Homo sapiens: one gene and its partner. The protein of the gene in region 1 interacts with the protein of each later gene in a pairwise test. Each region holds a gene or a part of one and is shown on either strand. Other genes may lie near its edges.

Evidence for each region.
Region 2: the proteins of CLCN4 (region 1) and ABHD5 interact in binary tests that used the Homo sapiens proteins (3 or more experiments, as listed by UniProt).

What each region holds. Positions count from the first base shown.
Region 1 is NC_000023.11:10,208,833-10,212,574, reverse strand, and holds part of CLCN4 (H(+)/Cl(-) exchange transporter 4), read right to left. Parts: intron 109-3,742; coding exon 1-108. UniProt on the Homo sapiens protein: Strongly outwardly rectifying, electrogenic H(+)/Cl(-)exchanger which mediates the exchange of chloride ions against protons.
Region 2 is NC_000003.12:43,714,938-43,718,693, reverse strand, and holds part of ABHD5 (1-acylglycerol-3-phosphate O-acyltransferase ABHD5), read right to left. Parts: intron 3,748-3,756; coding exon 3,636-3,747; intron 1,024-3,635; coding exon 837-1,023; intron 252-836; coding exon 162-251; 3' UTR 1-161. UniProt on the Homo sapiens protein: Coenzyme A-dependent lysophosphatidic acid acyltransferase that catalyzes the transfer of an acyl group on a lysophosphatidic acid.

The DNA of each region.
Region 1 (3,742 bases):
GATGATCCAGTCATGGTGATGGTAGGCCAGCTGCTCCACGCCAATTCCCACCATCCTGCCCGCTATCGCGCCCACAGCCATGCTGGGGATGAAGAGGCCCGACGGGATCTTGAGGAGACACAGAGAAAAGCAACATGAGGGAAAAAGACCAAGTCCCCGCTTCACGACCCCCAAGAAACACATTCCCCCTCGACGGGCTTGCATTTAGCTTCAGTCTTCAGAGGAGGTGCAACTCTGCAAAATAGGTCAGCTGGGGAAAGGTGGGACAAATAATTTGACCTGCCTAGTCAGTCATATCTACTGCAACTTAGAGAGGACGCAATTTTATACTTTGATTCCCTCTCCTTCAAAAGCTGGCTGGGTTTGCCTGCTGTGGATTAAAGAATGATAAGCCCCACTGCAAATAACATTCAAAGTGAGCATCTGTCAGTTGAGACACCACTTTCTCTCGCCCCTTGCCATGTCATTCAGAATGGCTTTTAAAATTAAATGTCAAGCCACAGCATGAAAATGGAAAAGAAGGGCCTGCGACTGCTCCCAGGTAAAATAAAGAAGCTAAGTCCATCATTGCAGCCACCCTGGATCTTCCAGAAAGCACTTCAATGGCTCCCTGCCCTCTCTAGTAGGTGGTAGCTGAATACCTGTCAGAGAGAGACGAGGGAGGCAATTCCCTCTTCCTAATGAAGTACATTTTCTAATAAGTATTCTGAATATTTTCAAGCCAGGATAGGGGCAGCAAAGAAATAGAATGTAAACTAAGAGATCTTGGTACCAGCGTGTTCTCTACCCTGCTGGATGAAGATACATTTTAGTTTATCTAATGACCACACATGTACTATAGAACAAGCCTGACTCCCTGTGTTCGCTGAAATGACACGTGACCGCTGACCATGGGCAGCAGCTGCAATGATGCCAGCCAGCCCCAGGTGGTTACCCATCTGAGGATGGAAGCAGAACTTTAACCTAATTCAAGTGAAGTTTGGATCCTTGGGTGTGATTTCTAGAGTCAGAATACTCCTTAGGAAATCATTCCTTTCTGAGCTTCCCCTTATTCTACATCATTTATATCCCTGTAACATCAAAGGAGACTTTTCTCAGCAAGCATCATAAAATGTTACCAGCATCTTCCTGAGACATGAAAACAAATCCCTTTGCTAGGAGATGACAGATCAGAGACAGCCAGCTGTTTAATAAGGCCTACTCATCCTTGTTCTTAAGGCCCAAATTCAGGTTTGTATTTGACCACTATGACACACTCAAGTAAACAACTTCTTAGAATTTTTTTCTTTTTTTTTTTTTTTTTTTTTTTGAGACGGAATCTCGCTCTGTCGCCCAGGCCCGTGTGCAGTGGCGTGATCTCAGCTCACTGCAGCCTCTGCCTCCTGCGTTCAAGTGATTCTTATGCCTCAGCCTCCCGAGTAGCTGGGACCACAGGCGTGTGTCACCACGCCCAGCTAATTTTTGTATTTTTAGAAGAAATGGGGTTTCACTATATTAGCCAGGCTGGTCTTGAACTCCTGACCTCAAGTGATCCACCCACCTTGGCCTCCCAAAGTGCTTGGATTACAGGCATGAGCCACCATGCCCGACCATTAAATTTAAAAAAAAAAAAAAAAAAGACAATTCAGGCTGGGTGTGATGGCTCACGCCTGTAATTCTAACGCTTTGGGAGGCCAAGGCAGGCGGATCACTTGAGCCCAGGAGTTCCAGACCAGCCTGGTCAACATGGCAAGACCCCATCTCTACAAAAAATACAAAAATCAGCTGGGCATGGTGGCACGTGTCTGTAGTCCCAGTGGGCTGAGGCAGGAGGATCACTTGAGCCCAGAAGGTCGAGGCTGCAGTGACCCATGATTGTGCCACTGCACTCCAGCCTGGACAACAGAGTGAGACCCTGTCTCCAAAAAAAAAAAAAAAAAAAAAAGACAATTCAGGCAGGGCACAATGGCGCATGTGTGTAATCCTAGCACTTTGGGAGGCCAAAGCAGGAGGATCACTGGAGCTCAGGGGTTTAAGACCAGCCTGGGAAACATAGGGAGCTTGGTCTCTATTTTATATTTTTAATAAAAATAAATAAAATTAAAAGACAATTCATAGAAATGCCACACAGAAAGCAATAGTAATGGAACACAAAAGGGGGCTCTGGGAGGTGGATAATGTTCTGCTTCTGGTCCTGGGTGCTGGTTACACAGGTGTGTGTGTGTGTTTTATGAAACTCCATCAAGCTGTACACTTCTCTATATGAACGATATACTCTAATAAAAGTTTCTTTAAGTAAGTAATGATAGCATTATTCATAATAGCCAAAAGGTGGAAACAACACAAATGTCCATCAAAGGATGAGTGGATAAACAAAATGTGGGATCTCCATAGAATGGAATACTATTCAGCCATAAAAATGAAGTAGTGACACATGCTACAATGTGAATGAACCTTGAAAACATTGCACTAAACGAAAAAAGCCAGTCACCAAAGGCCACATATTATATGATATCATTTATATGAAGTGTCCAAAATAGGCGAATCTAGAGACAGATTAGTGGTTGCCGGGGCTGCAGGAGGGAAAAATGGGGAATGACTGTTAATGGAGATGGGATTTCCGTTTGGGGGATGAAAATGTTCTAAAGCTAAATACAGGTGTTAATTGCACAATATTGTGAATGTATGTAATGCCACTGAACTGTATACTTTAAAATGATCATTTATGTTTTATGGGTTTTACCTCATTTCAAAAAAAAAAAAAAAGCTATAATAACAAAATCCCAGGTTCCATAAAAGAAAGTTCTTTAGGAGGGGCTTTTAAAGTATTTTAACATAATGATTTTAACAAATGATTTTAACACAATGAAAGAGGAAACCAGCTGTCTCTTCTCTGGCTTTAGGAACAAGAGTAATGAAGGCATGTGCTGTTGGGTGTGGTGTGGTGGCTCATGCCTATGATCCCAGCACTTTGGGAGGCTGAGGCAGGAGGATCACTGGAGCCTGGGAGTTTGGGACCAGCCAGGGCAACACAGCAAGAGCCTCATCTGTACAAAAAATTTTTTTAAATCACCAAGTGTGGTGGTTCACGCCTATGATCCCAGCTACTTGGGAGGCTGAGATGGGAGGATCATTTGAGCCCAGGAGGTTGAGGCTGCAGTGAGCTGTGATCATGCCACTGTATTCCAGCCTGGGAACAAGACGAAAGGAAGGGAAGGGGGAAAGGGGAAAGGGGGAAGAGGAAAGGGAAAAGGGAAAAGGGAAGGGAAGGGGAGGGAAGAGAAGGGAAGGAAGGGAAGGAAGGGAGGGAGGGAGGGAGGGAGGGAGGAGGAAAAGAAAGCATGTGCTGTCATCCACAGCTCTGTTCTTCAAAGAGGATGTGTGCAAAGAGCCCCTGTCATGCCCAGCCCTACCCAGACGGGGGACACACTCACTCTGTGCTCCCGTCATACCAGCGTGGTGCTCATCACAATGTCAGAACTCCAGGTCTGCATCTCTTTCTCCCAGAGCTGTGTGCTCTGCAAGGGCAGCTTTCTGTTTGGGTTCTGTATCCCTCAGACTTAGCACGATGCCTAAGATACAGCTGATACTCAATGCATGTTTAATGAGCCAAACTGAGCCAAACCTGGGCTTTTTCCACCACCTGGCATCACCTGGCCAGCGGCAGGAAACCTGTGGTCACCACCACCTGTTCTGGGAATGTGTGAAGTGGGTTTGATGCCTAGCTCTGTCTCCCATAAGCTGTGGGTCTGATCAAGCCACT
Region 2 (3,756 bases), on another chromosome or scaffold:
GTTTAAATGTGTGAGTGAATTCCTAAAGAAAACATGTGCAAAGTATAGTCAAGAAGGCTGCCTGGTTGTGTGTTGTATTCACTACTCTTCATCACAGACTATGAATTATTGCTGAACAACTATATCAGTCACCAGGTTTTCCCATCAGAGCTTCAGTGTGTTCAGTCCACAGTGTCGCAGATCTCCTTTACTTTCTGGTTGAATTCTTCTGGTTGATCTGCATATACATAATGTCCTGCCCCAAGAATAGCCTGGATAAGGAAAAGCATTCAGACAGTTAGTGAGTAAAAGCATTTAATAAAACAGAATGATATATAAGCAAAGACACTTAGTAATAAAAGTGAGAGCCACTGTATTTAAATAAAACACGTGATTAAAAAATAACAATAATCTATAGTAACTATTAAGTATATCCATTAAAAGGATCTGAGAATAGAAAAATCTACTGAATCTCAATAAAATTTTAATATGCAAAAAACACTAAATTGACCACTAATAAAAGTGCCAACAGAGAAACTGAAAAAAGTGAGAGTGTGCTGCCTTGTGAGGTGGGAATTACTTGAAGTGCTACTGGACCAATCCCTCTGTCCATCTCTCCTAATGCTGTGGCTCTAGGGACAGGAAAAGTCATTCAGAAAGGTAGTTCACGGTTTGGACATGAAGATGTGTGCAGGCCAAACCCTGCACCCATCACAGGTGGTATCACGTCCCCGACTGAGGCTGCAGGTATGGCTCAGATGACCTGCAACACGAGGATGACCTAAAACCTCTTTTAAGGGAGATAATAAAACGGACCTCACCTATACCTAAAAACCCAAATCAAGCCACACACTTACTATTGTCTTCACATATGAATGTGGTCGTAAGGACTGGATGCTGGTGCCAGAATTGCCATCTATGCAGGATCGGGCGCCAAAGATCACTGAAACTGGAATGTCAGGGTGCATTTTACCAATTCGCTGGAGCATTGGCCTTTTTGCCCATCCATAAGGAATAGTCATATTCTTGAAAGCTGTCTCACCACTTTAACGGCAAGGAGAAAATCACGATGTATGATTTTTGGGAATGAGTATGCATTGCACTGTCACTTCTATCAAAACACATTCATATTTAGCTTTTCCAGCACCTAAGAAAAACCTCAGCTTAAATAGAAAATAATTTATGAGACAGTGTAAGGAACAAATCTCACAGATCACTGTTAGATAAGCAAGGCTGTTGTATACTCCAGCTGATTTTTAAAAAAGTTTTCTTGTAAACCAAAATGTACAACCCTAATTTTCTATCATTAAATTATTTATTGTGGAGATAGTTAAAAATATGTTTTTTTGTCCTTATTTAAACTGATGTAGAAGGTAGCTTATCCCCAGGTTCATGGCACCAGCGTTTCACCTGCAATGCTAAAACCATTACCAAGTTAAGAAGAAACTCAGACAATATATTCTTGCAAGCTCTCAGGATAGGTCTATCTTGCTGTCACTTCTGCTATTCATTTTTTTTTTTTGTTTTTTTTGTTTTTTTTGAGATGGAGTCTAGCTCTGTTGCCTAGGCTGGAGTGCAGCTGCACGCACAGTCTCAGCTCACTGCAGCCTCTGCCTCCCGGGTTCAAGCAATTCTCCTGCCTCAGCCTCCTGAGTAGCTGGGATTACAGGCACGCACCACCATGCCCAGCTAATTTTTGTATTTTCAGTAGAGACGGGGTTTCACCATGTTGGTCAGGCTGGTCTCAAACTCCTGACCTTGTGATCTGCCCGCCTCGGCCTCCCAAAGTGCTGGGATTACAGGCGTGAGTACCACGCCTGGTCCCTTCTGCTATTCTTACAAAACCAGACATCATTCTAACTTGCCTTTTATGAAGAATTCAAGTCTCACTACAATCAAAGTAACAAACTAGGACTACACGAACACATGTAATCATGAAATAAGAGTACGTGAAGAGTAAAACTTACGCCATGCAGGAAAATGAATGATGTTCCCGGGGAAGACCCCTAAAAAAAACTGTTGGAAGTGTGTAGACCTAATCCACCAAACCTGACTGCCTAGCAATTCACAAAACCTCAATCTCTTGAAGACCTTGAACCTCTAGCCTCCCTCACTCTTGGCAGAGAACCTCTAACCTACTTTATTAAAAAGACTGAGGCTACAGCTACCTATAAATAGCTACCATGGCCTCAATCTTTTTAATAAAGTAGGTGTACATATTTTCTGCCAAAAGTGAGGGAGGAAATAAAAGAGAGGGAGGCTGTCTCTGCATCTCGCCTCTTAGCCTTTCATCCAAACCTCAGTCTTAGAAAGGATGAGATACCACTTCTCTGTCTTAAAGTGTGCTCCATAGTTCACCTATACAGAATCACCAGAGTATTTGTTAGAGATGCAGCCCAGAAATGCTAATATTAGTCTTAGAAACAAACCTCAGGAGTCACATTTCAACAAGCACCCCCAATAATTCCAGTACACAACATAGCATGAGAACTGCAGCTCTCATCTTTGCACTCTATTCTTGATGCTCTTCCTAGAAACTCTAGGGCCTTATCATTCGGCCTCCTCCTAGCCCCCCACTATCTTCAGGCTCTGTTTTCTCCACTGGTACTTTTCACCCAACATCCATAAGTCATATTTTTAAAACATACATTTGGCCCTCTTGCTCCCTCTGCTACTATGCCCCATTCTCTCTCTCTCCTTCTAATCACTGTCAAAATACATGCAGAATCCCTCACTTACTCCTCACCCTCTGCAGCTGCATTTCTAATGCTGACCTACAGATCTTTAGAGTTGTTCAGGAGTACAATCATCAAATGAACTTGAAAAATACACATAGCATCTCCCATTCACTTGGGAGATTCAATACCCTTCGGTATAGTAAAGGTTCTAAGAGGATTCATAGTATAGACAATCATTTACTTTTGTTTAATCCAGCACCCTTTTTTCTTTTTTTGAAACATTCATACTCAGTTTGGGAAATACTTCTTTATGTGAAATTCTTCAACTCTCAACTCAAACCATCTCTTGGAGATGCCCAAGACCAAGACTTTCTCAACATGTTCATGAGAACTTTGAGGGAAGAGTGAACATGTTACTTCTTAATCCCCCATCAGAACTCAGCACAATGTTTTATACAGTGGGTACTCTAAGAATAGATGAGTAAAATAAAATGTATTAGACACTTGTCCTTTTAAATTCAGTCATTTAACTACTGATACAAATCTTCTGGACCACTGATATATTTTAAACAAAGGCCGGGCACGGTGGCTCACACCTGTAATCCCAACATTTTGGGAGGCAGAGGCGGGCAGATGACCTGGGGTCAGAAGTTCAAGACCAGCCTGACCAACATGGAGAAACCCCGTCTCTACTAAAAATACAAAATAATTAGCCGGGCGTGGTGGCACATGCCTGTAATCCCAGCTACTCAGGAGGCTGAAGCAGGAGAATTGCTTGAACCCAGGACGCGGAGGTTGTGGTGAGCCAAGATCGCACCATTGCCCTCCAGCCTGGGTGACAAGAGCGAAACCCCGTATTGAATGAATAAATAAATAAATAAATAGTTTTAAAAAAAATAGTCTAAAACACACACAAACACACACACACACACACACACACACACACACACAGAGTGAATTGAGAATCCTAACCCTCACCTTGGAGTCTGCACATTACAGTGGTAGATGTATTCTGTCACAGTATCGTCTTCGAACATTGAAGAATACTTTCGTTTGAAATCAGGCCTTAAACGCTGCACTAGACTTAAACCTATTTAAC